Linked DNA regions of Homo sapiens. The protein of the gene in region 4 purifies or fractionates together with the protein of the main gene of each other region. This does not show direct contact. Each region holds a gene or a part of one and is shown on either strand. Other genes may lie near its edges. The genes, in order: PTPN11, EPS8L2, CRKL, SOS1, EPS15L1, SNX9 and SHC1.

Region 1 (4,275 bases), on a different chromosome or scaffold from region 4:
TTTGACTGGCTTCTCTGTTTCTGGCCTTGCTCTCTTGCTCGAGCTTCACAGAGTGTCCAAAGTAATACTTCCGTACCACCCGGCCCGGCTTTTTTTTTTTTTTTTTTTTTTTTTTTTAAGAGACATGGTCGCACCATGTTGCCCAGGCTGGTCTTGAACTCCTAGGCTCAAGCAATCCTCCTGCCTCAGCCTCCCAAAGTTCTGGGATGAAGGCGTGAGCCACCATACCTGGCCTGAGTGCAGTGGCGCGATCTCGGCTTTCAGCAGCCTCGACCTTCCAGGCTCAAGCAATCCTCTCACCTCAGCCTCCCGAGTAGCTGGGACTACAGGCGCGCGCCACCACGCCCGGCTAATTTTTGTATTTTTTGTAGAGATGGGATTTCACTATTTTGCCCGGGCTGGTTCCCAACTCCTGGACTCAAGCGATTCGCCCGCCTCAGCCTCCCAAAGGGAAGTGCTGGGATTTCAGGCGTGTGCCACCGCTCCCACCCCAAAGTAGTATTTATTGTAATTATTATTATTATTTTGAGACGGAGTCTCGCTCTATTGCCAGGCTGGAGTGCAGTGGCGCGATCTCGGCTCAATGCAACCTCTGCCTCCCGGGTTCAAGCGATTCTCCTGCTTCAGACTCCCAAGCAGCTGGGACTACAGGCGCCCCCCACCACGCCAGGCTAATTCTTGAATTTTTAGTGGAGACGGGGTTTCACCATGTTGGCCAGGATGGTCTCGATCTCTTGACCTCGTGATCCGCCCACCTCGGCCTCCCAAAGTGCTGGGATTACAGGCGTGAGCCACCGCGCCCAGCCTATTATTATTTTTTTAGGCAGTGTCTTGCCCTGTCGCTCAGGGTGTAGTGCAGTGGCGTGATCACGACTCACTGCAGCCCCGACTTCTCGGGCTTAAGTTATCTTCCCGCCGCAGCCTCCACGCCCGGTTAGTTTTTTGCATTTTTTGTAGAGATGAGGTCTTGCTTTTTTGCCCAGGCTGGCCTCGAACTCCTTGGCTTAAGCGAACCTCTTGCCGCAGCCTCCCAAAGTGTTGGGATTACGGGCGTGAACCACCGCGCCCAGCCTACTATCTTTATCTTACAGAAAGAAAAGAATGGAGGAAACCGAGGCTCGGAGACAGTAGGTAATTTCCCCAAGGTTCCACAGCTAATGAGTGGAGCGGCGATTTGTGGAACGAAATGAATGAAATCGATGTGGCAGCGGGCCCGGACGGGTCGGTGGCGTAGACGCGGAGCGCGCAGCTCACACCTGGCGGCCGCGGTTTCCAGGAGGAAGCAAGGATGCTTTGGACACTGTGCGTGGCGCCTCCGCGGAGCCCCCGCGCTGCCATTCCCGGCCGTCGCTCGGTCCTCCGCTGACGGGAAGCAGGAAGTGGCGGCGGGCGTCGCGAGCGGTGACATCACGGGGGCGACGGCGGCGAAGGGCGGGGGCGGAGGAGGAGCGAGCCGGGCCGGGGGGCAGCTGCACAGTCTCCGGGATCCCCAGGCCTGGAGGGGGGTCTGTGCGCGGCCGGCTGGCTCTGCCCCGCGTCCGGTCCCGAGCGGGCCTCCCTCGGGCCAGCCCGATGTGACCGAGCCCAGCGGAGCCTGAGCAAGGAGCGGGTCCGTCGCGGAGCCGGAGGGCGGGAGGAACATGACATCGCGGAGGTGAGGAGCCCCGAGGGGCCCGGCGCGGGCCTCGGCCCGGCCACCGCCGCGTTCGGTTAGCCCCGTCCGGAAGGGGGCGCCCCGGCCGGGCTTCGGGCTCCCGCCCCGGGTCGGGGTTGGGGGCCGGTTCCCTCCTCGTCCCCTCGCCCTCCAGGGGCCGGGGGCCGGCCCCACCGCGCCCCCACCCCTCGGGTCCCCATTCATTTCCTGCCTCCCCGAGTTCCGGCTGCGGCAGCCCCGGGGATGCCCGTCAGGCCCGGGGCAGGTAGAGCCGCCGAGGGAACCACGGGTGCCAGCGGCCAGGCTCAGCGCCGCATTCCTGACCCATTGCCTCATGAGAATTGCCTCATGGTGATTCCGAAATAACCCTGCTCACTTGGGGAGGCTCCTTGGGACACGAGAGGGGAGTTGCGCGGGGCCGGGCCCCCAGTGGTCTAGTCGTTCTGGCTCACTGTGCCACTTTCGTGCATTTGGGGACTTCACGCAGGACCCCTGACCCTTTTATATGCCTCTTTGTGTCTTCTTTTCCTCCTACCCCTCACGTGCCAGAAATGGAAAAACTGACTGTATCTGCAGCCACTAGAAGTATTTCCTTCCTCTGCGATCTTCGCTTTGGGAGATGGAAAGGAAGGGAGCCGCATCTCGTTATTTAATCCTTCACTGCAACCTTAACAGTCAGGTCACTTTACTGGTACCCGTTTTATGGATGAGGAAACCGAGGCCCAGAAGCAACATGCTAGTAAATGACAAGATTTGAAACTTAGGAGGATTAGTGAGTTAATGAGATCCTTTGAAAGGTCAGGGTAATACTACTACTAATAGCTAACATTTGCTTAGTTCTGACCACAGCCCTATCAGATGGCTACTATTATCCCCATTGTAAAGATGAGTAAACCGAGTTTCAGAGGTTAAGTAAATTGCCTAACCTCACAGCTAGTAGGTGGTGGAGACAGAATCCCTACTTTTAATCACTATGTTGCTTCTATTATTTTGTAACTATTGCTAACCATTTGTAAGCCTTAATTTTGTTGTCAAACAGTAGTGTGACCTGTTGTTTTCAGATAGTGATCCTGCTATTTTGTATAGTCACTCTATATACCACTCACACTTAAGACCCATTGTCTATTCTTTTCCATGATTGTTCAATTATGGTCACTGTCTCAGACATTTAAAAAACGATTCAAGCTATTGAGGCTATTTGAATGAGATTTTCTTTTCTTTTTTTCTTTTTTTTTTTGGAGACGGAGGCTCACTCTGTTGCCCAGGCTGGAGTGCAGTGGCGCAATCTCGGCTCACCACAATCTCCGCCTCCTAGGTTCAAGCGATTCTCCTGCCTCAGCCTCCCAAGTAACTAGGACTACAGGCGCACCACTATGCCCGGCTAATTTTTGTATTTTTAGTAGAGACAGGGTTTCACTATGTTGGCCAGGCTGGTCTCAAACTCCTGACCTCGTGATCCGCCCGCCTTGGCCTCCCAAAGTGCTGGAATTACAGGCGTGAGCCACCGTACCCAGCCTGAATGAGATTTTTCAAAATATTAGGAATGTCTCCTCCAAACACACCTGGCATGTTATTCATACATGGATCTGGAATTTAAAAAGGGGAGAAAAAGAAAACTGAGAACTCGTAGGAAGTGAGTGACTTGGACAGGTCGGTTGGCAAGTGCTTACAGATCTGGGTAATATATAACTGCATTTCAACAGAACAGTGTATAGCCTCAAATGTTCTAATTCTTTAGGGAGCTTTTAAATAAACAGTTGTCTATTCTTTAATCTGTCAAATAGTCATTGAGCCTTTTGTTCCTGGTGTCTGCTCTTCCAGACAAGTAAGGATCTGCTGCTTTAGGAGACATCAGACGGGGCTGGGGGTTGGGAAAAGGTCTGGGTAGTAATAGACCCTACATTGTCCAGTTTGTTCATTTAGAAGCATAGAAGTGTGGGCATAGTCAAAGTAGCAAGTGGTAAAGATGACAGTTTGAAATGGAGTAATTCCTTCTCCCCTCCAGCCCTGGTATTATGCACCACCCAAAAAGCCGGGTTATGAACATAATACACATAATTTTGAATGATTCATTATTTTTTGGATTATAAGCCTGTTTTATTTGTTAACCAGCCTTAATGAGGTATAAATGACATGCAATTAATTGCATATATTTAAATGTACAATTTGATCAGTTTTGACATACATATACACTTGGGAAACCACCACCATAGTCAAGATAATGAACACATCTATCACCCCTGGTAATTTTGCCTTATGTTCTTTATAATCCTTCCTTTGTTCTTAGGCAGCCACTATTCTGCTTTCTGTCACTATGTATTAGTTTGCATTTCCTAGAATTTTATTTTTAAAAATTTTAAAATTGTTTGAATAGAGATGGGGTCTCACTGTGTTGCCCAGGGCAGTCTCAAACTCCTGGGTTCAAGTGATCCTCTCACCTTGGCCTCCTGAAGTGTTGGGATTATAGGCATGAGACACCCTGCCCAGCCCTAGAATTTTATTATTATTGTTATTATTGTGTTTTTTTGAGATAGGGTCTCACTTTGTTGCCCAGGCTGGAGTGCAGTGGTGCAATCACTGCAGCCTTGTTTTCCTAGGCTCAATCCATCCCCCCTCCTCAG
Region 2 (2,498 bases), on a different chromosome or scaffold from region 4:
TTCCCCACAGGTGAGTCCAGTGAGCCGACAGTCCATAAGAAACTCCCAGAAGCACAGCCCCACTTCAGAGCCCACCCCCCCGGGGGATGCCCTACCACCAGTCAGCTCCCCACATACTCACAGGTAAGCCCCCCTCAAAGTGAGGGAGCATGAAAGTGAAACCCTTCAGAACCTACAGTCTCTAAAAACATATGGGTACGCTGCCACCAGGTGGTGGCAAGTGCATTGTTCAAGTGGTTTAAAATACTTTTCCAGATTTGAAGCGGTTTTCATTTCAACTGCATGATATATAATTAAAGGAAACATTTCAAAAGTCATGCACAAATTCTCTACCCTAATATATCAGCTTTTTCTGTGCATCCACATGTATGTTTTAGAACCAAGGTTAGAAACTACTAAACCACTGAACTTGAGTGGTTTCACCAAACACTGGCACCCTGTTGGGGCTGTTGGGACTGATTCAGGCCCAACCTCTGGTAGAGCCAAAAGAGGAGACTGGGGTTCTGGGCTAGTGAAGCCTCTCCCCTCCTCCCACCCCCAGCCCCACCTGTTTCCAAAGAGGACAAAGAACAAGCCTATGGCACTAGGGGAGTCCCGTCTTTCCTTGCCTCTCCTCTTCCCTTCTGTGCTCATTCCTGGTCCAATCTGCATGGGAAGCCCCTGACCCTCCCACACCCCAGGATTCAATTTTGGGGTAAAGAGGGGCCAGCAATCCATCTTCTAAGCAAGCATGGCCTCCCCTCACCCACAGTGTCAGCCTGGCTCCCGTGGTCCCTGGCCTAGGACCACACTTAAAAACATTTCCACCCTTTGACTTCAGCTCCTGGTCTGTCCACCCTGGCCATGTCCTGACAGTCCATGGCCACTTCATTTCCCTGAGCACCTGGACACGGGAGCTGCCCTGATGACCAGGGCCACACTGACCAGGATGGACGGCCTGGCCAGGTGACAGCCACAGGCCTGCTACATGCCAAAGCCAGGACCCCTCAGCCAGGGCCAGCCCCCCCGCGCTTTTGAGGTGCAGGTCCCACCCCACAGAGAGGAGCTTGAGACCCGTCCTCCACTGGACCATTTGGGCTGTGTTCAGTCCTCAGAGGGGCCACGGCTCTGAAGACATGCTGGCCCTCACTGGCCAGCTGCGGGGAGCTGTGACCCTGGCGTTTCCCAGGAACGCCCCTGGCTCTGGTTCCCCTGGGGTGCCGGACTGGAGACCCCTGAGGTGGCCTGGGATGGGCCAGCCTTGCTGTACCACAGGCCCCTGCGCCACGCCCACCTCCTGCCTGCCCCGCCTCCACGCAGGGCCCCAAAGCTCTGGGGCTGTCACAGTTTCCATTCCGGGCTGACGCTGCCTGCAGCCTCTCTCCACGGTGACCTCCAGAACAGAAAAGAGGCAGCCAGTCGTGCACCTGGGAAGCTGCTGCCCCCCAGCCACTGCCCAGGTCTCAGAGGAGACCCCCACCAGACTGGGCCTCAGCCCCTCCTGTTCCTCACAGGGGCTACCAGCCAACACCAGCCATGGCCAAGTACGTCAAGATCCTGTATGACTTCACAGCCCGAAATGCCAACGAGCTATCGGTGCTCAAGGATGAGGTCCTAGAGGTGAGGGGCTGGAGGACGGGGTCCAAGAGGGGGAAACAGGGCAGGGCTTCAAGGGAGGGGCTACCAGGGGAGGTGGGGAGCGGTCTAGGGCCAGGCTGGGTGATGCCAGGACGGGGCACAGCTGCTGGCCCCTTTCTCCAGGGTCCCCGCCCTTGGACTCTGATCAGGATCCCCAGCCTGTTGGAGGGGCCTTCCCATCTTGGGGCTCCCCAAAGGCATGCAGAGACCCCTGTGCCAGGCTGGGGGGAGCATCTGCACCACGTGGACTCAGCGGGGGCCTGTCATTCACACCCACCCAGGAGCCCCCACATCTGCACTGGCCGCATCTGCCAGCCGGAATCCAGGCCACCCACTGGGGGACAGAAAGTGGAGCAGGCTAGGGGGGAGTGGGCCACATCCACAGCCTGGCTCGGCGGCTCACGCCTGTAACCGCAGCACTGGGAGGCCAAGGCGGGAGGATCCCTTTAGCCCACGAGTTCGAGACAAGCCTGGGCAACACCTCAAAACCCCATCTCTACAAAAAACATAAAAATTATCTGGATGTGGTGGTGTGTGCCTGTGGTCCCAGCTACTCTGGAGGCTGAGGTGGGGGGATCGCCTGAACCCAGGAGGTCGAGGCTGCAGTGGGCAGTGATTGCACCACTGCATTCCAGCCTGGGCGGCAGAGTGAGACCCTGTCTCCGAGAAAAAAAGGGTCCCCCAGACTCCTTGAGGCAGGGTGGGGGAGGAGCAGCCCAGCGAGGGATGGAGGGGTGGAAACAGGGGTGCGGAGAGAATGGAGCGAAGCGGGGCTCCGGGAGACCCTAGGGCGCTCCCGACCTCTGTAAAGCGGCGCCAGCGGGTGGTCCCAGCCCCGCAGAGCCTGGGTGTGGGGAGGGGCTGACGGCGCGCCCCGCAGG
Region 3 (3,500 bases), on a different chromosome or scaffold from region 4:
CTGTGCTCGGTGGCTCGTGCCTGTAATCCCAGCACTTCGGGAGGTTAAGGCAGGAGGATCGCTAGATCCCAGGAGTTTGAGACCAGCCCTGGCAAGATAGTGAGACCCCATTCCCACAAAAAATTAAAAAATTAGCTGAGCATGGTGTCATGCGCCTTTAAGTCCCAGCTACTTGGGAGGCTGAAGTGGAAAGATTGCTTGAGCATGGGAGGTCGAGGCTACAGTGAGCTATGATCATGCCACTGCACTTCAGCCTGGGCAACAGAGCCAGACCTTGTCTCAAAAAATGAATGAATGAATGAATGTAAGTTGTATATATTTAATATATTTAATCTCCATGCATGGTGAAACAGCTGTGGGAGAACTGAGAAAGGGTGCTTAGTCTAACCTGAGAGCCCAGAAGAGGAGCCTCACACACCTGTGAAGTAGAAGCCAATCCCTGAAGGGACAGGAGGAAACAAGAAGCATGGTTGTGCCTCCTCTTTACATCCCCTGTTCTAATTATTTAAGAACTCAAATCTAGACTTCCATAATTTGGAATGGGGAAAGGATTGCCAGTAATTTTAATCAGCATAGAATTCAACTCTGTGAATAAACCCCTTTGCGTTTCTCCTGACCAGTAGTTAAAATCATGTGAATTTGATTCAGAGAAAAATACAAGAACATGGCCAGGTGCAGTGGCTCACGCCTGTAATCCCAGCACTTTGGGAGGCCAAGGTGGGTGGATTGCCTGAGTGCAGGAGTTTGAGACCAGCCTGGGCAACACGGTGAAACCCTGTCTCTACTAAAATACAAAAAATTAGCTGGGCATGGCGGCGTGTGCCTAAGAGGCTAAAGGCAGGAGAATCACTTGAACCTGGGGGGTGGAAGTTAAAGTGAGTCGAGGTCGTGCAGCTGGACTCCATCCTGGGCGACAGAGTGAGACTCTCTCCAAAAAAACAAAAAACAAGAACACTGTCATGCTGAGAATGGAATCTTGTCCAATTAAGAGTTGTGTTCCCAGCCGGATGTGGTGGCTCACGCCTGTAATCCCAGCACTGTGGGAGGCTTAGGCGGGCGGATCATGAGGTCAGGAGATCAAGACCATCCTGGCCAACATAGTGAAACCCCGTCTCTACTAAAAATACAAAAACTAGCTGGGCGTGGTGGCATGCATCTGTAGTCCCAGCTACTCCGGAGGTTGAGACAGGAGAATCGCTTGAACCTGGGAGGCAGAGGTTGCACTGAGCCAAGATCACACCACTGCACTCCAGCCTGCCAACAGAGCGAGACTCCGTCTCAAAAAAAAAAAAAAAAAAAGAGTTGTGTTCCCATGGAAAGTACTAGTAGCCATTCGATTTGTGACTTTTAAAACTCAAATCCACAGAATTGTGACCTAAATTTTTCCTTTTGATCTGAATGATTAGACTAGATTTCTGAGGGTCTTTAAGATTAAAATATTTTAATTCTGGGCCGGGCGTGGTGGCTCACGACTGTAATCCCAGCACTTTGGGAGGTCTGGCAGGTCGGGAGTTCGAGACTGAACCTGGGAGGCAGAGATGACAGTGAGCCGAGATTGCGCCAGCGCCACTGCACTCCAGTCTGGTCAACAGAGCGAGACTTCGTCTCGGAAAACAAAAAACAAACAAACAAAAAACATTATTTTAATTCTTTCAGATAAGTAAAAGGGGGCACAGCCTATTAGTTGGGAGTTCAGATTAACTTGAGTTGAATCTGAGCTAAAATCATAACAAGTTGGGTGGGGCCACCAGGCACATAGCAACTCACCTGGAATGAACGTGACAAGAACAGTGGAAGAGGATGAGAAGAGGCTTTGAAGGTGCACACTCAACGGTATTCGAATTCTGTCACACCAGTTTTGTGACAGTATTAAACCAGAGTTAGGTAATTTGAATACCTGAGCTTTTGTGCTTTCAGAAACAAAAAAGGAGGGAAATAGGAAAGGGAAGTTCTTTGATATATAGAGGCCTACAATATACCAAAGCTCACTGCTAGACTCTTGGAATCTAATGGAAGTAAACCATGTTTTTGTTTTTGATTTTTGTCTTTGAGAAGCTTTGGTCTATTGAAAAAATTAGAATGCCATGACAGCTTAAAAGCAAAGGCAATCAACTGTACCTAAGAGGTGGGGAGAGGCTTGAAAGAGGAGATGCTCTTCAACTGATTCTTTAAGGATGAGAACAAGTATACGAGGTAGAAGAGGTGGTGGTAGAAGAGATGGTGGCAGTGCTTGCTGGTAAAGACACAGTTATAATTAATGTAGATGATGGGCAGGAACCTAGGAAGGAAAGATAAAGCCAACTTGTAAAGGGCCTCCTCAGCCTTGTAAATGAGCTTAACAATGGGAGCCATCTAAAGTTTTTAAAAAGAGAACTGTCAGATTTTAAAAGGAGAACTGATGAGTTTTACTTTTGAGAAACTGCTCTGGGTGGGGAAAGATCTGAAGGACTAATTCTCTGTTACTGGAGAGGGACCCTGAGAAGCTGAGCCAAGATCAAATGCCATAGGAATGTAAAGTGGCACATAGAAGGTGAGGGGAGAGGTATGATGACTTCAGAGAGGATTGAGTGGTGCCTTTGAGACAAGAGAAAGGGATTAGGGTGGGTGCGTGATTCTTTTCAACAGGAAGAATCTTTCTTTGAGGTACCTGCTGGAAGCCAGGTGGTATTTAGCAATCTGATGGGTTTGTTATTGAGAAGAGAGGTAAGGGCTGAATACATATAGATTTGGGAATCGCAGCTTAGATGGGATCACCCAGAATGAGGAGGCAGAACAGGAATAAGTAGAGAAAGAGAAGCTGCGGAAGGAGAGGCAGCCACAAGCATAGGAGGAGGAGCCATTAGTGATGGCCTGAAAGCCCAGGGACAGAAGGGAGGGGACCTGGGCATTAAATGCTGGTCAGTGATAAAGAATGGTGGTTACTGGCTGGACATGGTGGCTCACGCCTGTAATCCTAGCACCTTGGGAGGCGGAGGCAGGTGGATTGCCTGAGCTCATGCGTTCGAGACCAGCCTGGCCAACACAGTGAAACCCTGTCTCTACTAAAATATAAAAAATTAGCCAGGCATGGTGGCGTGCGCCTATAGTCCCAGCTACTCGGGAGGCTGAGGCAGGAGAATGGCTTGAACCTGGGAGGCAGAGATTGCAGTGAGCCAAGATCGCACCACTGCACTCCAGCTTGGGTGACAGAGCAAGACTCCGTCTCAAAAAAAAAAAAAAAAAAAAAAAAAGAATGGTGGTTAAAGCAGTTTCACTAGAGAAGTACTTAGCTCATCTTGGAATTGAATTTTTTTTTTTTTTTTTTGAGACAGTGTCGCTCTGTCGCCCAGGCTGAAGTGCAGTGGCATGATCTCGGTTCACTGCAGTCTCCACCTCCCGGGTTCAAGTGATTCTCCTGCCTCAGTCTCCTGAGTAGCTGCGATTACAGGCGCCCACCACCATGCCCGGCTAATTTTTGTATTTTTAGTAGAGATGGGGTTTCACCATATTGGACCAGGCTG
Region 4 (3,500 bases):
AGTTCTATATTTTATAACATGTGACAAAATAAAAAGCTTAATGCTTAAAGGGAAAAAAAACTGCCAACTATAATTTTGAATGATGGTTTAAGTATTTTTTTCACATCTTTTTTTATAGTAGGTATAAACAACTAACTTAAGTGTTGTTTTCCAAAGTGTATTTATATGCCTACCTTATGTTCTTGTTACCATAAATGTCTGTAAGAGAGGTTCTAATTAGTAGCTTTACTTACTTTTTTTGTGCCAGTCCACCAACTTATTCTTAAATCAGATTCACTAGATTTTAGTGTAATTTCTGTTTTCATGGTCAGGGCTGCCTCCGTTGTCTTGAATAGTGCCATCACCGTTAAAATTTTTGGATTTAGAGTATAATGAGCCTCTTTTTGCTTACAGGCAAAGGGGAGCCTATAACTAAACAAAATGAGGAGAGGCCCCTCACCTAGACACTATGATTCTTTCCCTTGCATCCTTTGAGAGAAATGCTAGGGAGAGACATTGGAGAGAGTGGTTAAGAGCACACACTCTACTCCCAGGGACTATCCAGTAAGGTGGGGAAGTTCTATAAATTCTAATAAAGTCAAAGAAAAAAATGAACCCATTATAGAATCTAAAAATTACCATTCCAAAGATTTTCAGTAGCTCACTGTCTCCCAGACATCTGAGAATCAGACTCAATTAAAAATTTCAATAATAGAGTAACCATGGGAATGTTATTTTGTTCAGGCAAAATAACAGAATACCTTAGGCAGCTTTTTTCTAAATATTCTGCTAAAAAATGTCTGCATGCTTTTATGGCAGTTTGCTTTAATGAAATACTATTCGGTATTGGTTTATTGAACAGCTTTTGGTATTTCTACACATTACTTTTAATTATAAGCAATTTCCAGCTAAGACTTTTCAAGGTAAATAAATGAAATAAAATTCCTGTGGACTTTTTCTTAAAAATTTAACATCCCACAGGATCTGCTTCTGTATCATCTATAAGTTTAACCAAAGGCACTGATGAAGTGCCTGTCCCTCCTCCTGTTCCTCCACGAAGACGACCAGAATCTGCCCCAGCAGAATCTTCACCATCTAAGGTAAAGTAAGAAATCTTGTTGTGTAGAAATTGGAATCATTACAGTTCATTATAATAAACGGCTGTCTAGTTTAGTTCTCACTAGGATAAGTTAACATTTCAGAGTATACAGGCTTAATAGTTTAAACAAGGATTACATATAGATTTAGCATGCAGTAATGTTTCTTTCTTCTGAAGGTAGTTTTTTGGTATGCATTCAAGACCCTTGTAAACCTAAGGCTATGGTTATTTTCAGAAAAAAACAAAAGTTTTAATCTGTAAAGTAAGAGGAATTTGGTTTCAAGCAGTTCTTTAAAAGCATACAGAGAAAGTCCTGAAGCTTTGTATGAAGGCACATTATAAGTCAAACTGTATTTTGACATATGCTAAAATTTACTTATCTGAGCCCTTAATAGTAAATCTGACATACTTTTAAATGGAGTTTTCATGAAAATTCTGGGTTTGGAAGAGACCCCAAAGGCTCAAAATAGCTATTATTTCTACTTATTTAATTTTGTTTTTTTCTTTTTGGCCAGCTGTTAAACTTAATTCATTAGTTCTTAAGCTGTCCAGAGTGCAGAGCACCAGGATAAGTCAAGACAAGACACTCTTTGTAGAACTTCATGAATGTTAACATAGTTAACTTAAAATTATAAAATAGGTACTTTATGCTAAATTAGAAATGATCTTAGATTGAGTGATAAGCTAAGCAAGCAGTAGCAAACAAAATTTTGAGGAAAAAAATTTAAGTAAAAACTACGGCAAACTTTTTTTTTCTATGAATTGACAGAACCTCCCATTTAAAACATATGCCAGCCTTGGCAACAGAGCAAGACCTTGACTCTACAAAAAATGAAAAAAATTAGCCAGGCATGGTGGTACATGCCAGTGGTCCTTGCTGCTTGGGATGCTGAGGTCGGGGGATCACTTGAGCCCAGGAAGTTGAGGCTACAGTGAGCCATGATTGCACCACTGCACTCCAGTCTGGGCAATAGAGCAAGGCATTGTCTCAAAAAAAAAAATTTTTTTTTAATTAAAAAGAAAACATATGGCAAAACTCCCTGTTCCACACTTAGCATCCTGCCAATAGCATGTTTGAAAACCCCAACTTAATTCTTATAGTCATGATACTTCATAAATTTATTAATAAATGTGTATTTTATTCTTTTCATTTGTTAGATTATGTCTAAGCATTTGGACAGTCCCCCAGCCATTCCTCCTAGGCAACCCACATCAAAAGCCTATTCACCACGATATTCAATATCAGACCGGACCTCTATCTCAGACCCTCCTGAAAGCCCTCCCTTATTACCACCACGAGAACCTGTGAGGACACCTGATGTTTTCTCAAGCTCACCACTACATCTCCAACCTCCCCCTTTGGGCAAAAAAAGTGACCATGGCAATGCCTTCTTCCCAAACAGCCCTTCCCCCTTTACACCACCTCCTCCTCAAACACCTTCTCCTCACGGCACAAGAAGGCATCTGCCATCACCACCATTGACACAAGAAGTGGACCTTCATTCCATTGCTGGGCCGCCTGTTCCTCCACGACAAAGCACTTCTCAACATATCCCTAAACTCCCTCCAAAAACTTACAAAAGGGAGCACACACACCCATCCATGCACAGAGATGGACCACCACTGTTGGAGAATGCCCATTCTTCCTGAGTTCCTCTGTACTGGGATGTATATTTTCCTAGCCCCAAATCCATTGCTGGCAATGGATGCACTGAATGTGCCAGCACTGAGGAGTTAAAATGAGAACTCCAAACACTAACGACTCTTCTTCAAGATGCAGTATAAGACAATGAATTTTAACCTAGATGTAATTATACAATGGAAATGGTATTCCAGTTTAGAATATGGAAAGACCGACCTAGAGGAATTGGACAACTGATTGCACCTGAAAATCATAAAGGGACTTTTTCTGGCCAATAGGCAGGAGTCCTCTTTTTGTGAAGTGATCTTTTGTGAAGTGATCATTAAAGGGATGGAAAACACAGTCTAGTGTCCAGCAGGCCCACATGACAGTTTTTGTAATTCAAATTATGCACTTTTAAAAAAAAAAACTTAAACAGGGATCTTAATATCTTCCTTTGTTTTCCTTTGCTTTACTCTTCTACTTTAGAATATTTTCTTAAAAATCACTCAAAGGACTGTGAGGAAAGGCTGTGGTACCTGACCTTGTTGAAATCAAGGCCCGGCACTGTACTACAGGCCTGTTTACAGATTATTACGGTGAACTGAATGGGTACCGAGGCTTCACCAAAGAGGTACTTTTTTGTTGTTGTTGTTGTTTTAGGAATAATTGTACCAATTTTAAGAGCATTCCCCCCACCTGTCCCCACACACCCAAACAAAATGTGGTGGTGTTGCCTTCAAAAAAGAGAAGTTTTGTGTCATTAACATGACAGAAGAACTTTTTAAAAAAAAATAACTG
Region 5 (3,500 bases), on a different chromosome or scaffold from region 4:
ATAGCTCACTGCAACCTCAAACTCCTGGGCTCAAGCAATTCTCCCACCTTGGCCTCTCAAGTAGCTGGGACTACAGGAGCGCAGCACCAATCATACCCAGCTAATTAAACAATTTTTTTTTTGAAGAGATGAAGTCTTGCTATGCTGCCTAGGCAGGTCTTAAACCCCTAGCCTCAAGCAATCCTTCTATCTCAGCCTCCTAAAGTATTGGAATTACGGTGTCAGCCACTGCATCTGGCTAGGATTCATCTTCTAAAACATATTCCCCTGTTCCAAAAACCTTTCACAGCTCCCATTCCCCTTCCTCCAAAAGAACTCAGTTTATGGCTGGGCGCTGTGGCTCATGCCTATAATCCCAGCACTTTAGGAGGCTGAGGTGGATGGATTGCTTGAGGCCAGGAGCTCGAGACCAGCCTGGCCAACATAGCAAAACCCTGTCTGTACTAAAAATACAAAAGTTAGCCAGGCATAGTGGCAAACGCCTATAATCCCAGCAACTTGGGAGGCTGAGGCACAAGAATCGCTTGAAACCAGGCGGCGGAGGTTGCAGTGAGCTGAGATCGCGCCACTGCACCCCAGCCTGGGCAACAGGGTGAGACTCAGTCTCAAAAAAAGTCAGCTTTGATGACCTTAGTAAGCCCTGAATCGACTCCACCTAACCTTGCTGGGTCCCTTTCCTGCACTTCTGGCTCTTGGCAACACTTTCTAGCCTCAGCATCCTTAGCTGTGTTGCTCCGGTTGCTAGAACATCACTGTGAGCTCCTGCCGTATGCTGCCTGCCCTGAAGGACGGTCTTTGAGGCCTCCCCTGTGTTGTCCTCCCTTAGCCCCACCCGAATGAGAGTTCTCTCCCTTGTACCTTCCGTGGGTCCCTTTTGTGACCGCTGTACCTAGGAAGCGCGTGGTAACTGGGCTCAGTGATGAGGAGAGACTGCCCTGGGCCCAAAGAGCTACACCTTCCTCCTTTCCCCCTTGTTATGTGTTCTTCATCCAGGAGCTTTTGCTGTATTTCAGTAGGTGCCTCCATTCTAGGAGGCTTTTATTCCCCTTTTACAAGTGAGGAAACCAAGACCCACAGAAATAGAGTAACTTGCTGAAGTCTCATAGTTGGTGGGCGCAGAGCTGAGGTCACACCTGCGTCCTCCTGCCGCAGAGCCCTGCTGTTCCAGATGGCCTGCTGGGCACCTCTCCCAGAGCAGCACCCGGCCAGTGTGTCTGGAATGAATGCTGAGTGGCTCGGACACTTACTTGTCCTCTTGTCCCTTGTTTCTTTTCTTCCTCTGAAATAAGTGCTAGTCTATCTTAGTAGAATGCTAATGGCAATGCAGTCTAAATTGATGAGAACGAAGTTTTAGAGTAAAATCCACTCCTGAAAGATCCAGAATTCCCTGACTGTCACTTATTGACCTGCACTGGCCTGTTTTTTTTTTGTTTTTGTTGTTGTTGTTGTTTTTTCGACTAAATAGATTCTCCCTGGGCAAGACCCCTCCACCTCCATTCTGAACTTTAAAACAACTTTCCAGGCCGGGTGCAGTGGCTGACGCCTGTAATCCTAGCACTTTGGGAGGCTGAGGCAGGTGGATCACCTGAGGTCAGGAGTTTGAGACCAGCCTGGCCAACATGGTGAAACCTCATCTCTACTAAAAATACAAAACATTAGCCTGGCGTCCTGGCGGACGCCTGTAATCCCGGCCACTCGGGACCCTGAGGCAGGAGAATCACTTGAACCCAGGAGGCGGAGGTTGCAGTGAGCCAAGATCACTCCACTGCACACTCCAGCCTGGGCAACAAAGTGACACTACGTCTCAAAAAAAAAAAAAAGAAAAGAAAAGCAGGCACCATCAGGTGCAGTGGTGCCTGCTTTTCAATGTTTAGGTCCTTAGATGTTTGTTTGGATTCCCAGATATTCCTTCACTGCCCTCAGTCCTGCAAATACTTTCTGTACCTTAGTTTTCTCATCTGCAGAATGGTACTGTGGACTCGCTTGACCTGCTTTGTCACAGTAGAGTGTCAGGACCCTGCCGTGTGACGCATGTGCTCTCAGTGCTTTCCTTTTTTTTTTTTTTTTGAGACAGAGTTTCACTCTTGTCACCCAGGATGGAGTGCAATGGCGCTGTCTTGGCTCACTGCAACCTCTGCCTCCTGGATTCAAGCGATTCTCCTGTCTCAGCCTCCTGAGTAGCTGGGATTACAGGCGCCCACTACCACACCCAGCTAATTTTTGTATTTTTAGTAGAGATGGAGTTTCACTATGTTGCCTAGGCTGGTCTCGAACTCCTGACCTCAAGTGATCTGTCTGCCTCAGCCTCCCAAAGTGCTGGGATTACAGGCAGGAGGCACCGCGCCTGGCCCTCATGCCTGCCTTTTGTAGATCACACTGTTCGTTCAGTGAGTATTTATTTGGCATCTTCTTTTTGCTGGACACTTTCTGGGCAGTGGATGGAACAGTGAATCTGAAGGCAGTGCCGCCTCACGGGGCTGACATCGTTGGGAGGGGCCCAGATATAAAGAAATGAGCCCAATGTGTAGTGCATTCGGTGGGGATTGATGCTGTGAGATGAGTAGAGCAGGGCAGGTTCCGATCTGATGATGGAGGTCAGGAAAGGTCTCACCACCAGGCTGGAAGGACTGAGTAAAGAAAACATCATAGATTGCCTGGTTCATCCTCCCGGTCACTCTGGCCAGTATTATCTTCAGTGTATAGGGGCAAGAGGGGCAGATCACTGGAGGCCAGGAAGGGCAGATCACTGGAGGTCGAGAGTTCAAGACCAGCCTGGCCAACATGCTGAAACCCTGTCTCTACTAAAATACAAAAATTAGCCAGGCGTGGTGGCACATGCCTGTAGTCCCAGCTCCTCAGGAGGCTGAGGCAGGAGAATTGCTTGGACCTGAGAGGTGGAGGTTGCAGTGAGCCGAGATTGCACCACTGTACTCCAGCCTGGGTGACAGAGCAAGACTCTGTCTCAAAAAAAAAAAAAAAAAAAATAGATAAAGTGAGGCCAGAGATTGTTACGTCCCTTGCCCAAGTTTGTACCCAGTGAGCTCAGGCAGACATGGCTTTTCTGACACAGGTTCAGGCCTCTTCATTGCACCATAGTTTCTTGTCTTGGAAAGTTATTTTTTTGTTTGTTTGTTTTTAAGTTTATGACATCTCCTAACCTCATTTGTTTTTATACCTAGTTATTAGATATCATGTAGTCTGAGTTTTTATTTTATTACTTTAATCTCATCTCATTAAAAGGTAGAGAGGGACATGGAAAGGCCTGCTTATTGTCTTCCTTTTTCCTTTAGAGACAGGCTCTTGCTCTATTGCCTACGCTGGAGTACAGTGGTGCAATCAAAGCTCATTGCAGCCTCGACTCTTGGCCTCAAGTGAGCCTCCCACCTCAGCCTCTCAAGGAACTGAGACTACAGGCATGCAACACCACACCTGGCTAATTTTTAATTTTTTTGTAGAGACAGGATCTTGCTATGTTGCCCAGGCTGGTTTCGAACTCCTGA
Region 6 (3,500 bases), on a different chromosome or scaffold from region 4:
CCTAGCACTTTGGGAGGCCGAGGCGGGCGGATCACGAGGTCGGGAGATCGAGACCATCCTGGCTAACACGGTGAAACTCCATCTATACTAAAAATACAAAAAAAATTAGCTGGGCGTGGTGGCGGGCGCCTGTAGTCCCAGCTACTCGGGAGGCTGAGGCAGGAGAATAGCGTGAACCCGGGAGGCAGAACTTGCAGTGAGCCGATTTTGCGCCACTGCACTCCAGCCTGGGTGACAGAGTGAGACTCCATCTCAAGAAAAAAAAAAAAAAAAGGAAAGTTAATCAGTAACTGCACATTTTAAGGGGATTATCTATTTTCTATTTCTACTCCTTACTCAGTAGAGTGCTGCATTCAGTTTAAGTGTATACACTCACTCAGTGCAATCAAGTCTTGTTTTACAAATATTAATACAAAAGCTGCAGAGCATTTTAGTCTTGACCTTTATTGGAAGCCTCCAAAGGTTATATTTCGACCCAGCCAAAATATAACCTATTTATATTATAGGTTTTATATATATATGATATATAAATATATTATATTATATATATATATTATATTTTATATATAAATATATATTATATTTTATATATATATTATATTTTATATATAAATATATATTATAGTTTATATAATATATAAATATATATTATAGTTTATATAATATATAAAATATATTATAGTTTATATAATATATAAAATATATTATAGTTTATATAATATATACATATATATTATAGTTTATATAATATATACATATATATTATAGTTTATATAATATATACATATATATTATAGTTTATATAATATATAAACATATATTATAGTTTATATAATATATAAACATATATTATAGTTTATATAATATATACATATATATTATAGTTTATATAATATATACATATATATTATAGTTTATATAATATATAAACATATATTATAGTTTATATAATATATAAACATATATTATAGTTTATATAATATATAAACATATATTATAGTTTATATAATATATAAACATATATTATAGTTTATATAATATATAAACATATATTATAGTTTATATAATATATAAACATATATTATAGTTTATATAATATATAAACATATATTATAGTTTATATAATATATAAACATATATTATAGTTTATATAATATATAAACATATATTATAGTTTATATAATATATAAACATATATTATAGTTTATATAATATATAAACTTATAGTTTATATAATATATAAACTTATAGTTTATATAATATATAAACATATAGTTTATATAATATATAAACATATATTATATTATAGTTTATATAATATATAAATATATATTATATTATAGTTTATATATATATGAGATATATAAATATATAATACATTGTCAGTCATCCTGTTTTATTTAAAAGATCAAGTTCTGGAAAAGAAATGAAGAATTTTTTTTCAGTGTCTGTCAAAGGGGACATGAAGAAAATTGTTAGTGGAGGTTAATCCATATCTATATAATTTAGCTGTAATTTCTACGTCAAAGTTAACCTTCAGTCACTAATTTGGATCCTTTTGTGCTTACATAGTCACCTTTAGGCTAACTATAACAAGATTCTAGGAGTTCCTGATGCTTTTTTTTTTTTTTTAACTCTTCGGTTCCAATACCTAAAGTTATACACATGTGTTACACAGCTTGTCTGGTTAAATTAAGTGGGTATGGAATGTTAAAAATAATGGTAGGGAATAAATGAATTACTTAAGACTTGTTTATTCCATGCATAGATTAGTGAGAACAATTCAGAAGGCATACTTTGTAGCCCCTCCAGAGCAGAAACTTCTTTATTTGACGACTAGAATAGAAATATCTTTCTAACAGGTCTTAAGGATTAAAGTTGATTTTTATGGCTTTTAAAATGTTTGGAAAATGCTAACCATTTAACTTTGTATAACAGTAGTATTTTCTATGTGTCTTAAGTAGAGTGTGCAGTATTTGTATAGTCAAAGATAAGTTCTGTGACAGTAGAAAGATGAACAAGTCTCATTAAAGAAGGAATAGATTAGAAAGCATAAAAATGTTGCAGTTTTTCTACTGTGCCTTGTTTTTATATTGACCATCTGAAAATTAAATTATAGTTTTACTTTAATTGTCCACTTAAAACTTTGTAGCTTTGCAGTACTGCTGTTTCTTTTCTGGAATGCTGTTCTCCCTTGTCCTTCCCTAGGTACTTTGTTTTTAGATGTTAAGTTTTTATGATTATGATTATTATTATTTTTTTTTTGGAGACAGGGTCTCACTTTGTCATCCAGGCTGGAGTGCAGTGGCACGAACACAGCTCACGGCAGTCTCGACTTCCCTGGCTCAGGTGATCCTTCCACCTCAGTCTCCCAAGTAGCTGGGACTACAGGTGTGCACCACCATGCCCAGCTACTTTTTGTATTTTTTGTAGAGATGGGGTTTCACCATGTGTCCTGAACTGAGGTGATCCTTCCTCCTCAGCCCCGCAAAGTATTGGGATTACAGGTTTGAGACACTACGCCTGGCCACATATTAGGTCTTAATGCGTCTAAGCATCACTTCCCCGGGAAAGCCTTTCCTGATGTCCCCGCCCCTGTTTCAGGGTCACATTACACACCCCGACTGCCATTTTATATTTGTTTCTATAACTGATGGCTGGCTCCTTTGAATGCTGTCAGCCTCAAGAAGCTGAGACTGTTTGTGATCACTTTTGTATCTTCAATGACAAGTTTAAAAGAGCAAAAATATATTCTAGTGAGATAAGTGACTCGATTATTGAAGTAGAAAACTATTAATCCCCAGCTGTAAGCTTTTGTTCTTTTAATCATGTGTTTTAGTGTATTTGTTAAAAGTGTATACAGGTACAACACAAAATTTACATCTGCAGCTTAGGTATTGGCAATTATATTTTTTAAAACATAATCAATTTTACTAATGATTACATGAGAAATTGCCTGATGTTTTAAGGTAGTTGGAACAAGCTTCATATTTCTGAGACTTTAAAGAGTTGTCTTTAACCTACAAGTTGTCAGAATTGTCTTTAATTTCCAAATGTATTGGGTTTTTCTCTTTCTTGTTGGTGATTTCTAACTTGATTGCATTGTGATCAGGGAGCCTAATTAAAATCAATACTGTACCTGGAAATTTGTTGAGGCTAACTTTATTCCCAGCATACAGTCAGCTTTTATGTTTCACCTGTGCACAAAAAGAGTATACATATTATTGATGTGTGTGTCTATTCTGTATGCTCTATGTCCACTAGACTTACTGTGCTGTTTATATGTATATCCTTACTAATTGTGTTCCTCTATTTGATCTGTTGTATCTAACTGATCCTCTGTCTACTTGATGGTGATGCTAAAATGGTGAATTTAAAAATTTTCTCTACATTTACAATTAGTATTATTTTCTAGGTGAATTGAAGTTTTTATCATTATGAAGTGAACCTCTTTACCTCTGGTAATGCATTTTTTCTTAAAGACTATATTTCTAATGTTA
Region 7 (2,975 bases), on a different chromosome or scaffold from region 4:
ACCATTGGCCAGGCCTTCGAGTTGCGCTTCAAACAATACCTCAGGAACCCACCCAAACTGGTCACCCCTCATGACAGGTGAGCAGGTGGGGAGAGTGTGGAGCAGCTCTTGGATTAGGATTAGGAAAGGAGGGCTGCTCTTCCTACACTTGAGTTGAGAGGTTCAGGGAGGGAATAACCTGTGTGCCTCTGCTTCCCACTTCCTGCTATTCTTCTGTTTCCTGTGGCCCAGGAGGAAAGACTTTTGAGGCCCTGCTTGCCGCAGGACCAGCTTTTCTTGTTTGCTCATGGTGGAGTTGTAGTCCGGGGCCTCCAAGTTACATCTCTCTCTGGCTAGGTGGGATTTTCTACTCCCATCCCTCTTTCTTGCTCATTTCTCTGCTTGGCATTATGTGTTTTCCTGCCTCTAGAAGCCATCAAGAATTTGGGTTTGGGAGGATATCTCTTTTCCCTGAGATTACAACCTTTCCCACCTCAGGCCTTGAGGGATAAGCAGTGGAGCCAGTAGGGATTGAATATTTAGGAGAGGTTAAAATATTCTGGAGCTGGAGTGCCTCCCCCGGCCCCCCACCCCCCTACATGGTGCTTCCCTTCCTTGTTGGGAGATAGCACAGAGATCAAGAGCAAGAGCATTACTTATTTGAGACAGTCTTGCTCTGTAGCCCAGGCTGGAGTTCAGTGGTACAATCACAGCTCACTGTAGCCTCCATATCCTGGGCTTGAGTGATCCTCCCACCTTAGCCTCCTGAGTAGCTGGGGCTACAGGTGCATGCCACCACACCTGGCTGAGTAGTAGTATTTTTATTCTGGTAGAGATAAGGTCTCGCTATGTTGTCCTGGCTGGTCTTGAACTCCTAGGCTCAAACAACCCTCCCTCCTTGGCCTCTGAAAGTGTTGGGATTATAGGCGTGAGCCATTGCACCTGGCCAAGGGGATGAGCTTTAAAGTCAAACCTGAATTTAAATCTGAGCTCGGCCGCCTTTTAGTTGTGAGACCTTGGGCAGATCTTTTCACCTCTGACCCTCATTTTCCTCATCTGTAAAAGTGGGGAAGGAAACAATACCTACCTTACGGGGTTGCCAGGAGAATGAAATGATTATGTATATAAAACACTCAGCCTCAGGCTTAATCCATAGTAAATACCCAATAGATGGCTGCTGTTCTATTCTGTCCTTCCCTCCTCCTGCCCACCACACATTTACAGCCACAGCTTCACTGTCCTGTCCCTCAGGATGGCTGGCTTTGATGGCTCAGCATGGGATGAGGAGGAGGAAGAGCCACCTGACCATCAGTACTATAATGACTTCCCGGGGAAGGAACCCCCCTTGGGGGGGGTGGTAGACATGAGGCTTCGGGAAGGAGCCGCTCCAGGGGCTGCTCGACCCACTGCACCCAATGCCCAGACCCCCAGCCACTTGGGAGCTACATTGGTAAGTTGCTTGGATGGAGGCGGGCTGGGGCTAGGGTGGGAGTGGTTGGTTAGGGCTTCTGGTCTCACCTTATTTTTATCCCTGCAGCCTGTAGGACAGCCTGTTGGGGGAGATCCAGAAGTCCGCAAACAGATGCCACCTCCACCACCCTGTCCAGGTATGAAGGGAGCCGAGATAGGCAGAGCTGGGGAGTGTTGGAGGCAGGGCTGGGATCACTGTAGAGCCTCCCTTTCCTCAGCAGGCAGAGAGCTTTTTGATGATCCCTCCTATGTCAACGTCCAGAACCTAGACAAGGCCCGGCAAGCAGTGGGTGGTGCTGGGCCCCCCAATCCTGCTATCAATGGCAGTGCACCCCGGGACCTGTTTGACATGAGTGAGTGCTCGTCTCTCTCCTCTCTGCATCCCCACCTTTCTACTTGGTTCTGGCCCTTCTCCTGCCTATCTGCTCTTTCCTTCCTGACTTCCCTTCCCTGAAGTCTGGGTCTTGGGTGTGTGTTGTGCCTGCTACTTCCCCTCACCCTCCCTCTATACTTCCAGAGCCCTTCGAAGATGCTCTTCGCGTGCCTCCACCTCCCCAGTCGGTGTCCATGGCTGAGCAGCTCCGAGGGGAGCCCTGGTTCCATGGGAAGCTGAGCCGGCGGGAGGCTGAGGCACTGCTGCAGCTCAATGGGGACTTCCTGGTACGGGAGAGCACGACCACACCTGGCCAGTATGTGCTCACTGGCTTGCAGAGTGGGCAGCCTAAGCATTTGCTACTGGTGGACCCTGAGGGTGTGGTGAGTGTGGCAGAGGTGTGGGTGAGGGGTGGCAAAAAGGAAGGTACAGTACCCTACAGTGTATCCCTCTTCCTTCCCTCATTGCTTTGTAGACATTCCCGCTGGGCAGCTGTCTATGGGCCTCTCTTGCTCTTTAAAGTGTCTGGCATCTTCCTCCAGAGGCTCATCCCTTAGCCTGAACTATGTTCTTTATAGTCCTGGCACAGGGCCAGGCGTGGTGGCTCACACCTGTAATCCCAGCGCTTTGGGAGGCTGAGGCAGGTGAATCACCTGAGGTCAGGAGTTCGAGACCAGCCTGACCAATATGGTGAAACCCTGTCTCTACTAAAAATACAAAAATTAGCCGGGTGTGGTGGCAGGCACCTGTAGTCCCAGCTACTCAGGAGGCTGAGGCAGGAGAATTGCTTGAATCTGGGATGCAGAGGTTGCAATGAGCTGAGATCACACCACTGCACTCCAGCCTGGGTGACAGAGTGAGACTCTGTCTGAAAAAACAAAACAAAACAAATACAGTCCTGGCCCGTCCTCAAATCCCCAAGCCTTAAGCTTATCAGAGCTAGAAGGCAGTCATCTCATCTGTGCCCCTCTTTTGACAAATAAGGAAACCACCCTGAAGAGGTTGTGATGCCCAATGTCAGATGGTTAGAGGCTAGACACTGCAAGTTTCCTTTTGTAAGAAGATCCAAGGGCTTCTCCAGCTCCCCAGACTCAGGACTCAGACCACTGTGCTTTCTCTTATCTGCACTGCCTCACTGTTCTTCAAAACTTTC

What was found.
Region 1: the proteins of SOS1 (region 4) and PTPN11 purify together in Homo sapiens (affinity purification with western blotting; 4 studies listed by BioGRID and IntAct, with this or other methods). This does not show direct contact.
Region 2: the proteins of SOS1 (region 4) and EPS8L2 purify together in Homo sapiens (affinity purification with western blotting; 2 studies listed by BioGRID, with this or other methods). This does not show direct contact.
Region 3: the proteins of SOS1 (region 4) and CRKL purify together in Homo sapiens (affinity purification with mass spectrometry; 3 studies listed by BioGRID and IntAct, with this or other methods). This does not show direct contact.
Region 5: the proteins of SOS1 (region 4) and EPS15L1 purify together in Homo sapiens (affinity purification with mass spectrometry, with the first as the bait; one large-scale study listed by BioGRID). This does not show direct contact.
Region 6: the proteins of SOS1 (region 4) and SNX9 purify together in Homo sapiens (co-immunoprecipitation; one study listed by IntAct). This does not show direct contact.
Region 7: the proteins of SOS1 (region 4) and SHC1 purify together in Homo sapiens (affinity purification with western blotting; 14 studies listed by BioGRID and IntAct, with this or other methods). This does not show direct contact.

The regions. Positions count from the first base shown.
Region 1 is NC_000012.12:112,417,472-112,421,746, forward strand, and holds the start of PTPN11 (tyrosine-protein phosphatase non-receptor type 11), read left to right. Parts: upstream 1-1,475; 5' UTR 1,476-1,640; coding exon 1,641-1,654; intron 1,655-4,275. UniProt on the Homo sapiens protein: Acts downstream of various receptor and cytoplasmic protein tyrosine kinases to participate in the signal transduction from the cell surface to the nucleus. Positively regulates MAPK signal transduction pathway. Dephosphorylates GAB1, ARHGAP35 and EGFR.
Region 2 is NC_000011.10:723,231-725,728, forward strand, and holds part of EPS8L2 (epidermal growth factor receptor kinase substrate 8-like protein 2), read left to right. Parts: intron 1-10; coding exon 11-123; intron 124-1,493; coding exon 1,494-1,599; intron 1,600-2,497; coding exon 2,498-2,498. UniProt on the Homo sapiens protein: Stimulates guanine exchange activity of SOS1. May play a role in membrane ruffling and remodeling of the actin cytoskeleton. In the cochlea, is required for stereocilia maintenance in adult hair cells.
Region 3 is NC_000022.11:20,923,907-20,927,406, forward strand, and holds part of CRKL (crk-like protein), read left to right. Parts: intron 1-3,500. UniProt on the Homo sapiens protein: May mediate the transduction of intracellular signals.
Region 4 is NC_000002.12:38,985,052-38,988,551, reverse strand, and holds part of SOS1 (son of sevenless homolog 1), read left to right. Parts: intron 1-960; coding exon 961-1,079; intron 1,080-2,236; coding exon 2,237-2,728; 3' UTR 2,729-3,188; coding exon of another isoform or gene 3,189-3,242; 3' UTR 3,243-3,500.
Region 5 is NC_000019.10:16,465,471-16,468,970, reverse strand, and holds part of EPS15L1 (epidermal growth factor receptor substrate 15-like 1), read left to right. Parts: intron 1-3,500.
Region 6 is NC_000006.12:157,826,246-157,829,745, forward strand, and holds part of SNX9 (sorting nexin-9), read left to right. Parts: intron 1-3,500. UniProt on the Homo sapiens protein: Involved in endocytosis and intracellular vesicle trafficking, both during interphase and at the end of mitosis. Required for efficient progress through mitosis and cytokinesis. Required for normal formation of the cleavage furrow at the end of mitosis.
Region 7 is NC_000001.11:154,964,773-154,967,747, reverse strand, and holds part of SHC1 (SHC-transforming protein 1), read left to right. Parts: coding exon 1-77; intron 78-1,203; coding exon of another isoform or gene 1,204-1,230; coding exon 1,231-1,429; intron 1,430-1,516; coding exon 1,517-1,586; intron 1,587-1,667; coding exon 1,668-1,802; intron 1,803-1,966; coding exon 1,967-2,205; coding exon of another isoform or gene 2,206-2,379; exon of another isoform or gene 2,380-2,462; intron 2,463-2,975. UniProt on the Homo sapiens protein: Signaling adapter that couples activated growth factor receptors to signaling pathways. Participates in a signaling cascade initiated by activated KIT and KITLG/SCF.